Linked DNA regions of Homo sapiens. The protein of the gene in region 1 interacts with the protein of each later gene in a pairwise test. Each region holds a gene or a part of one and is shown on either strand. Other genes may lie near its edges.

Evidence for each region.
Region 2: the proteins of PGBD1 (region 1) and ZNF24 interact in binary tests that used the Homo sapiens proteins (3 or more experiments, as listed by UniProt).
Region 3: the proteins of PGBD1 (region 1) and MEOX2 interact in binary tests that used the Homo sapiens proteins (3 or more experiments, as listed by UniProt).

Annotation. Positions count from the first base shown.
Region 1 is NC_000006.12:28,291,497-28,295,258, forward strand, and holds part of PGBD1 (piggyBac transposable element-derived protein 1), read left to right. Parts: intron 1-3,762.
Region 2 is NC_000018.10:35,331,606-35,334,461, forward strand, and holds the end of ZNF24 (zinc finger protein 24), read right to left. Parts: 3' UTR 622-2,856; downstream 1-621. UniProt on the Homo sapiens protein: Transcription factor required for myelination of differentiated oligodendrocytes. Required for the conversion of oligodendrocytes from the premyelinating to the myelinating state.
Region 3 is NC_000007.14:15,624,036-15,627,797, reverse strand, and holds part of MEOX2 (homeobox protein MOX-2), read left to right. Parts: intron 1-879; coding exon 880-1,052; intron 1,053-3,762. UniProt on the Homo sapiens protein: Mesodermal transcription factor that plays a key role in somitogenesis and somitogenesis and limb muscle differentiation. Required during limb development for normal appendicular muscle formation and for the normal regulation of myogenic genes.

The DNA.
Region 1 (3,762 bases):
TGAATTCTACCAAACATTTAAAAAGAACTAATACCAATCCTATTCAAATTCTTCAAAAAAAAAAAAAAAAATTGAAGAGGAGGGACTACTTCCAAATTCATTCTAGGAGGCCAGCATTGCCCTGATACCAAAACTAGACTAGGATACAAAATAAAAAGAAAACTACAGACCAACATCACTGATGAGCATAGGTGCAAAAATTCTCAATGAAACACTAGCAAACTGAATTCAACAACACATTAAAAAGATCATTCACCATGATCAAGTGGGATTCACTCCAGGGATGCAAGGATGGTTCAACATATGCAAATCAATAAATGTGATATATCACATTAATATAATCAAGAACAAACACCATATGATTATTTCAATAGATGCTGAAAAGCATTTGATAAAATTCATTGCTTTTTGATAAAAACCCTTGTCAAAATTGGTATAAAAGGAACATACCTCAAAATAAGGGCCATATATGACAAACCTACAGCTAACATCAAACTGAAGGCCTTTTCTCTAAGGACTGGAACAAGATAAGAATGCCCATCTCACCACTGTTGTTCAACATAATACCCGAAGTCCTGGCCAGAGCAATTATGCAAGAGAAGGAAATAAATGGCATCCAAACCGGATAGCAAAAAGTCAGGTTAGTCTGTTCGCAGATGATATAATCTTATACCTCGAAAAACCTGAAGACTACACCAAAAAAACTGTTAGTGCTGATAAACAAACTAAGTAAAGTTGCAGGATAAAAAATCAACACTCAAAAATTAGTAGCATTTATATACTTCAATAGTGAACAATCTGAGATAGAAATCAAGAAAATGATCGCATTTACAAAAGCTACAAAAAATATAAAATACTTAGGGAATTTAAATACTAAAAATTTAAACACCAAATTAAGTTAAATTTAGTGTTTAAATTCCCTAGGCATTTTATATTTTTTAGTATTTTATTTATAATTTATAATTTAGCATTTAATTACTAAAGAAGTGAAAGACCTGTATAAGGAAAACTAAAACTCTCATGGAACAAATTGAAGAGGACACAAAAACACTGGAAAGATATTCCATTCTAATGGATTGGAAGAATTTATATTATTAAAATGACAATACTTCCCAAAACAATTTACAGATTCAGTGTAATCACTATCAAAATACCAATGACATTCTTCACAAAAATCAGAAAAAAAAATTCATGTGGTGAGCCCTTAATCTAATGACTCATATTCTTATAAGAAGTCCATATTTGCAAATTGACCAAGGGGTTGAAAAAAAAGAAAGAAAAATGCCCAAGTGAAAACACACACAGGGAGAATGCCATGTGATCACTGAGGCAAAGATTTGTATAACACATCTGCAAGCCGAGGAACACCAAGAATTGCTGACAAACACTAAAAACTTGGAGAGAGGCAAGGAAAATTATCCCATGGAGCTTTTTTTCTTTTCTTTTCTTTTCTTTTTCTTTCTTTTTGAGACAGTCTTGCTCTGTTGCCAGGCTGGAGTGCAGTGGCGCGATCTCAGCTCACTGCAACCTCTGGCTCCCTGGTTCAAGTGATTCTCCTGCCTCAGCCTCCCGAGTAGCTGAGATTACAGGCAAGCGCCATCACGCCCAGCTAATTTTTGTATTTTTAGTAGAGATGGGGTTTCACCATGTTGGCCAGGATGGTCTCGATCTCCTGACCTAGTGATGTGCCCACCTTGGCCTCCCAAAGTGCTGGGATTACAGGCATGAGCCACCACGCCAGGCCTCCCATAGAGCTTTCAAAGATAACATGGCCCTACTGATATCTTGATTTTGGATTTCTAGCCTCCAGAGCCATGAGATAATACAATTCTGTTGTTTTCCACTATTGAGGTTGTGGTACTTTGTTACAAGAGCCATAGGAAAGCAATATAAGTTACAAAACAAATTATGGACTGATAAAGGGAGAAAATAAGGAGGTATGATATTACAGATACACTTCCTTCATTGTGTTTCACTTTATTGTGCTTTGCAGTATTGAAAGTTTGTGATGACCCTGTGTGGAACAAGTCTGTCAGCACCATTTTTCTACAGCATGTGCTCACTTTGTGTCACATTTTGGTAATTCTTAAATTCTTAAACGTGACACTCTGTGTCACATTTTGGTAATTCTTAAAATGTTTCAAACTTTATTGTTATATCTGTCATGGTGATCTGTGATCAGTTATTTTTGATGTTACTATTGAATTTGTTTTGGTGTGCCACAAACCATGCCCGTTTAAAATGTCAGACCTAATCAATAAACATTGTATGTGTCCTGACTCCTCCATTGACCAGCTGTTCCCTCATCTCTTTTCCTTTCCTTGGTCCTTGCTATGTCCTGAGACACAATAATATTGAAATGAAGCCATTTATAATACTACTACTACAGTGACCTCTATGTGTTCAAGTGAAAGGAAGAGTCACATGCCTCTCAGGTTCAATAAAAAGCTAGAAGTGATTAAGTATAGTAAGGAAGGCATGTTGAAAGCCGAGATAGGCCAAAAGCTAGGAGGCCTCTTGTGCCAAACAGGCAGGTGGTGAATGCAAAGGAAATGTTCTTGAAGGAAATGAAAAGTGCTACTCTGGTGAACATATGAATGATAAGAAAGCAAAAAGCTTTTTGCTGATATGGAGAAAGTTTGAGTGGTTTGGATAGAAGATCACACCAGCCACAGCATTGCCTTGAGCCAAAGGCTAATCCAGAGCACATCTCTTACTCTCTTCAATTCTGTGAAGGCTGAGAGAGGTGAGGAAGCTACAGAAGAATAATCGGAAGCTAGCAGAGGTTGGTTCGTGAGGTGTAAGGAAGAAGCCATCTCTATAAAATGCATCAGCAACAAGTGCTGATGCAGATGCTGCAGCAGGTTATCCAGATCTAGCTAAAATCACTAATGAAGGTGGCTACACTAAACAACAGATTTTCAATGAAGATGAAACCACCTTTTATTGAAATAAGATGCCATCTAGGACTTTGATTGCTAGAGAGGAGAAGTCAGTGCCTGGCTTCAAAGCTTCAAAGGACAGCCTGACTTGTTAGGGGCTTACGCAGTTGGTGATTTTAAAGTTGAAGCCAGTGCTCATTTATCATTCTGAAAATCCTAGGGTCCATAAGAATTATGCTAAACCTACTCTGCCTGTACTCTAGAAATGGAACAACAAAGCCTGGATGATAGCACATCTGTTTACAGCATGGTTTACTGAATATTTTAAGCCTACTGTTGAGACATACTACTCAAAAAAGAAAAAAAGATTTCTTTGAAAATATTACTGCTTATTCACAGAGCACCTAGTCACACAAGAGCTCTGAAGGAGAGGTACAAGGAAATTAATGTTTTCAAGCCTGCCAATACAATACACATTCTGTAGCCCATGGATCAAGGAGTAATTTTGACTTTCAAGTCTTATTATTTGAGAAATACATTTTTTAAGGCTATAGCTGCCATAGATAGTGATTCCATAGATAGTGATGGATCTGGGCAAAGTAAATTAAAAACCTTCTGGAAAGGATTCATCATTCTAGATGCCATTAACATTTGTGATTCAAGGGAGGAGGTGAAAATACCAACATTAACAGGAGTTTGGAAGAAATTGGTTCTAACACTCATCATTGTCTTTGAGAGGTTTAGGACTTCAGTGGATAGTGTAGCTGCAGATGTGGTGGAAAGGACTAGTATTAGAAGTGGAACCTGAAGATGTGACTGAATTGCTACAATCTCATGACAAAACTTGAACAGATAAGTTACTTCTTATGGGTGAGAAAAG
Region 2 (2,856 bases), on another chromosome or scaffold:
GTTTTCCACTGCCACGTGTAGTTTTTCACACACGCAAGCAACAGATGTAAATCCCATAACAGTGCCTGACCCAGAGTAGGCATTTAAATGTGTTGAATAAAAGCTTGCAAAATGTTTTCCTCAATTTTGAAAGACATCTCTTTGAAAACTCCATCTTAGGAGATGTGATTAATAGAGGTGCCAGGTGACATAGAGCGCTGCTACATTTCTGGCCATAGAAAAGAGCCCACAGGGTGAGGCTGCTCAGGTCTGTGTGTGCTCATTCACGTCTTGAGTCCACAGGCCTGAGAATGAAACAAAGAGCCAGAGAACCATGGAGTTGGGATGGAGGTCATTGGAAGGGCTCCAAGGGTTGTATACAGGGAATGCTTGAGGGGAATCCCCCAAGAACAATGGTAGGAGATGGGTACAGCTCTCAGCAGTGTAACCCTTAAAGTCCCAGGTTAATGAGTCTAGAGGAAGAATAAGAAGAGAACTGCCAAAGAGGCAATTGTGTAAAAAGCTGTTCATCCACATTCCCAACATCAATGTTGTTACTATTGGAATGTAAAGTGTATGTGTGTGGGGTGTGTGTTATAGGGAGAATGGAGTAACAAATGGCAAAAGTTGACACAGGCCAAATCATGGAAGGCCATGCTAATTTTATTAACTTATATAGTGCATAAAGTCTAGAATTTAAAATTACAAAGGTTTTCTACAAATCAATAAGAAAATACAAATAACCTATATTAATCAGAACAGAAACTCAATTCAATTATCTTAAACAAGAAAGGGACTTTATTGGCTCACAAAACTTTAAAGTCCGGAGGTAGGGCAGGCTTTAGGCACAGCTGGATCTAGGGCCTCCAGAAAAATGACATCAGAACTTAGTTCTCTTTCCATTTCTGCTAGCATCCGAGTTTCTCCTCAGACAGACTCTCTCCACATGGCACAAATTCAGGCTTACATGGTCCTTGGTTCCTGGGATCTCCATAAAGCCTTCTTTCCAGTAGTTCCAGCAGAAGTTCTGTTAAGGGCTTTCCTTAGCCTGGCTTAAGTTATATACCCATTCTTTTATCACTGTGGCTAGGAAGCTGTGGGACTCAGGAGGCCAGGCCTGGTCACATGCTCACCTAAGCCACAGGGAATAGGTTCCCCACAAATAAATAAAGGTTGTGTTACCAGAAGATGGGGAAGGAGATGCTGAACAAATAAAAACAATATATCCACACATAACCCAATAGAAAGCAGGTAAGGGATACAAACAATCCACAGTAAACTATAAATGGCCAATAAACATGAAAATAACCCCAATCTCACCATTTTTTTTTATAATCAGGGAAATGCAAAATAAGAAAAGGTTCTTTTTCGCCCAACAGATAAAAACTATCAAGTGTAGGTATGGTTATATGGGGAAATGAACATTCTCCATACACTTGGTGAAAATACAGTTATGAAGGCCTTTGGGAAGACTGAAGGTGGACAGAGAACAAACCCTTTGATCCAAAAATCCACCTTACTGGACTCCAGACTAAAGAAATATTCACACACATGCACAAAGACATCTGAATAGGATGTTTACTTTGGCAATGTAATAGCGAGAGGAAAAAAATTAAGGGAATAAATAATGGCATTTTCATAGTATTTAATCATATTCAACCATTAAAGAAATTTAAAGACCTGTTATCTTTTTTTGAGACCAAAATTTTAAAAAGCTACAGAATATGAGATCCTATTTATGTAAAAAGTGTTTTTATGTGTATGTATATTCGTACGGAAAGGTGACTAGAGGATGTATGTTAAACTGTGGTAAGTGGAATGTGATTGGTAGCATTGGAGAAAAGGGTCTCTCTATTCAAAGAACTGTGTTTTTTATACAATGAGAAGGTAGTCATTAGACTTTCATAATTAAAAAAAGGAAAATGGGCAAAAGCAATTCATAATAGGAAATGCAAATGGCCAAGAAACATGAAAAGATGTTCCTCCTCATTAATATTCAAAGAAAAGAAAGAAATTTTGCCTACCAGATTGGCAAAAATTTTTAAGGATTCAGGGTTGGCAGACTATAGGCAAACAGGCATTCTTACTAATGATGGAGTTGTAAATTGGTGAAATCTTTTTGGTAGTAGTTTTCAAAACTGCAAATGTGAAACCTGATCCAATAAATTTCTAGTTATTCATCCTACAGAAATACCCACACAAGTAGCAAAATACATGTACAGGAATGTTAATTACACTTCTATCTATAATGAACCTAATTATCAATCCATAGGGGATTAAATAAATTACAGAATATTCATGCAATGGAATAGTATATAGTTATGAAAAAAGAACATCTTCAATGTGGGGGGAGAGGAGGCAAGTCTCAGTGTAGTGCATGTGAAATGGGGTTATGTCCTACTTTATACGGTAGCTGAGGATTAAGAGTTAATCCATGATAAAGCACTTCAAATAGTGCCTGTCACAGCAACCACAGGTGTCAGCTGTTAACACATTATTGATTAAATAAGTATATGCCTAAATCTGGAAGAACAAACGAAATTATCATGACTTCTCGGTAACACTGTGAAAGGAAATATCCTTTTTCATTTTACATTTCTGCACTGTAAAAAATTCAAACCAGCAATGTTTAATAGCTTTCACATTTGTTAACCATAAACACAAATTTATCAAGGTTTAATAGCCACCACCCATGGCATGGTGAATATGTCCCTGGAGTCTACAGAACCAGATTTGAATTTTATCTCTAGGCCACATGCAAGTCACATGATCTCTGAATCTTGCTTTCCTAGTCCACAAATCTAAGTGAGATAGGTACGGTGTCTAAGCCAATGCCTAGCATGCAGATTATTTCAGTACATGTAACCCTCCCTTCAA
Region 3 (3,762 bases), on another chromosome or scaffold:
TCACGTTCTGCTTTTTAGTATATTAAGAATGTCTTCTGACCTACATTTCAGGGGTATTTATGAGGATAAAAGAAATTCTATACGTTAGTTATGTATTGAACCCTTAAGAGGAAAAATGGAATGATATACTCAAAATTGCTATTGGTATTTTACACTGCATTATAAGATTTGATGTTGTGGATCACTGATGTTACATGTTGTGCACCTTATGTTTATCTTATATATAATGAAAAACACATTTAAAAACTCTGTTCATAGTTTAAGTCATATGAACACAATTTCATTTATAGATTCCATGTTGGACTAAGTATAATATAAAATAAAAGAACATTGCTATTGCCCTCAAGAATTTTACTTAAATACAGATAAAAAAGCCAATAAGTACACACATACTTTTACATACGCTCAGTCTGAGCATAAAATTTTTTATGGTCCAGTTGCTAAACGTTTGAATTTCTCAAATACTCCTATATTGAGATGCCACTTTTTAAAGGATTACTATGTTCAATCTTACTTAGACCTCAAGTACGTATGTTCAACAACTTATGAAACAGAACTTCATATCTAAAAGTGTTTTCTAGAGAGGTTTTGGTTTATCTTAATATCATACTACAAGCAGTTAAAGGTTTTGTTAATATTTTATAAGAAGAAAATTACATGCTTTCCCAAATGGACTGTGAGTTACCTGAAGGAAGATGAAAAAAATAAGAATTATATCTCCCCCCGTTGAGCTGCCGTCAGTCTTGCTGTCTTTGGTCTCTATTTGTTCCATGTCTAGCGCAGTACCTGGAAAAGTAGTAATTCAATAACTGTGAATAATATGATTGCATGTGTTTGAATAAATGAGTTATTACCAATTCTGTCTCCCTTTTTTTTCAGACTCCCAGGAAGGAAATTACAAGTCAGAAGTCAACAGCAAACCCAGGAAAGAAAGGACAGCATTTACCAAAGAGCAAATCAGAGAACTTGAAGCAGAATTTGCCCATCATAATTATCTCACCAGACTGAGGCGATACGAGATAGCAGTGAATCTGGATCTCACTGAAAGACAGGTAAAGCTGGGCATTATCATTATATGATCTTTTTTAATTGCCCTGGGTCCACAGTCTTCTTTGCCATATTTGAAATACCTAGATCCAGAATTCTTGAATACCATTTGGAAGACAGTTATACTATTCCATGATAAAATTTTGCCAGCAAAATAACAAAATTAAAAATAATATAGTGATATTTGAAAGAAAACCATACTTATTGAGTTGAAGAAAGAATCCTCCTATGATTATTATCCTTCTGTATTTTTGGGTTTTAAAATATTATTTCTTTTACATAATGATGGCATACAGTGAGGAGTTGTGCATGCTTATATGTTAAAATCTCCTTATTTGGCATATTAGAAAGTTGGTAAACCCAGATTAGTTTTCTGTATTGCTCAGGATAGGTCATGATAAGTTGCAGTAACACATTCACCCTCAAATCTCAATGGCATAACATAAAAATGTTCATTACTTACTCACTCTCCATACAAACTCTACATGTCCAGCATTCCAGATAATCACTCACAGACCCATTCTGACTCTTTAGCATCTCAACATGTGGTGTCCATGGTAACTACAAGAAATAAGAAAGAATTGGAAGTTTATGCACTGACCTTTAAATGTTTTCACCTGGAAATTAGCCATGTCACTTCTATTTACACACTAATGTCTAGAATAGTCAAATGGTGCGGCTTAGGTGCAAGATGGCTGGGAAATGATGAAAGGCAAGGACACATAGATCATTGGTAAATATTTCTGCCCCTTTACCCAAAATATTTTTGAAATTGTATCGGTGTCAGTAATTCAAAATTCTGCTACCCACTCAGAGAATACTTTGAAATTATTAATGTTTTTGGACTCCAATTAATGAGACCTAAATAATATTTTTAAATTAATTGCTTTTTAGGTCCCTTTCTTGCATTTTTTTTGAATGACAAATGATTTGTTCTAACAGTGTTCCCAGTGAATTCCTTGTACAGATTCTTGTTTCCCTGAGGAGAATCTAGCCTACTGCCGGTTAACAGTTGCTAATCTTTACAAAAACATTCCTGAAAGGCAAATGCAAACATCTTTATGGACAGTGCAGTTATGATTGGCACTCTTAGGGCTAGAGTCTCATTTCCTCTTTCACTGTGTGTACCTCCTCCAGGATCCCATTGGAACCAAAGAAATATCAACAGGGTGTGGACAAATGAATGCATGTCTTAAGAGAGCAAGTTATTTTATCCAATTTCTTAAATGACCTGCTTTCCTTCTGTTAATTTTTACATTTCAGCTTTGGTAGGTTATTTATGGGTAGTAGAAATATACAGAGGAACACTTTTCTGTGGTTTTATTTATTGGCAGTTTGTATTTTATTACATATTATGACTAGTACCTATGTTATGGAGCACAGCATTTTCCTTCCCTTAGACTTCACATACAAAATTCCCTCTATGGGTTCAACATTTGGCATGCTGGAAAGCAGGATCCAAAGTCTACATCATCAGACCTCTATTTTATTATTTTTTTTAAACAGGGAACGGAAAATAAAAAGGTGTATGTGGAGGGAGAATTACACACTAATGTTCTTATATAGAGATGGTGAATTCTAGGAAATGCAACCGTGTTTTATATAGTAGATGAAGGAACTAGGAAACTAGGATTTGCTTCCAATCTGTAGAAATGACAGGATCCAGTACTGTGCTCTCAGCCAAGAGGAAAAACAAGATTCTGTACTTGACATTTTGGGGGTGGTCTACGGTTATCTGTCATTGTTTGACCACGGAGCAGAATCATTTATCTTTAGAAGCAGTTTTGTAAATCTGGTTTGAAAACGTTGAAGGTGTCTTGGATATTTCTTCTTTCTAACTGACTTCAGGAGCTTGGTAAAGAATTACATGCAAGAATTATATATACCTATACATACTATTTTAATGTTGTTTTAAAGATTCTTTTAACATTTTGTGTTAGTTACCCTTTGCTGTGTAACAAACCACTCCAAATCTTAATGGCTTCAAATAATAACCAAAGTTTTATTTGCTTTAGGTTTTGTAGGTTAGAGATTTTGACTGGGCTTAGTTGGACAGTAATACTGCTGGCCCTACATGGAACCCTCATGGAGCTCCAGTCAGCTGGTGGGCTGACTAAGAAAGAGATGGTTGGGCCTCAGCTGTGGTTTCATCTTCTTATAGGCTAGCTTGGGATCCTTCCAATGGTGATAGAAGCATTCCCAGGAGCACTGAGGGGGAAAACTCCGGTGAGCAAGGGCTTTTCAGGCCTCTTACGTCATATTTGCTAGTGTCCCATTGTCCAAAGCAAGCCATGTGACCAAACTCAGTGTCAGTGTAGGACAAGATCGCTTCATTGGAAGTCATTCCTGAAATAATCTAACCACAGCATCACAGGGGGGAAATTAACACAGAACATGAGAGATAGTTCAGTTTTCATTGAATTGAAAATTTGTTATTGTGCACAATATATTTTTATTCCATAAATCTCTACGTGCAGTTTTGCAAGTTAATGTGAAAAGATGTATACATGCAGAATTTAAATTCCTAATCAAAACTAAGGCTTTAGAGGGCCTCCCTGGGTTAGTCAAAAAGAATTTAATTGTTATGAAAAAAATCTGAATAAAAATCCAAGGTTTGCTGATTAGAATTGTGTGTTCTTAAGTAAGTAACAATCTCCCCAAGGCATAAAATGGAAATTAAAACCTGCTCTTTCTTCTATGTAGATTTGTATATCA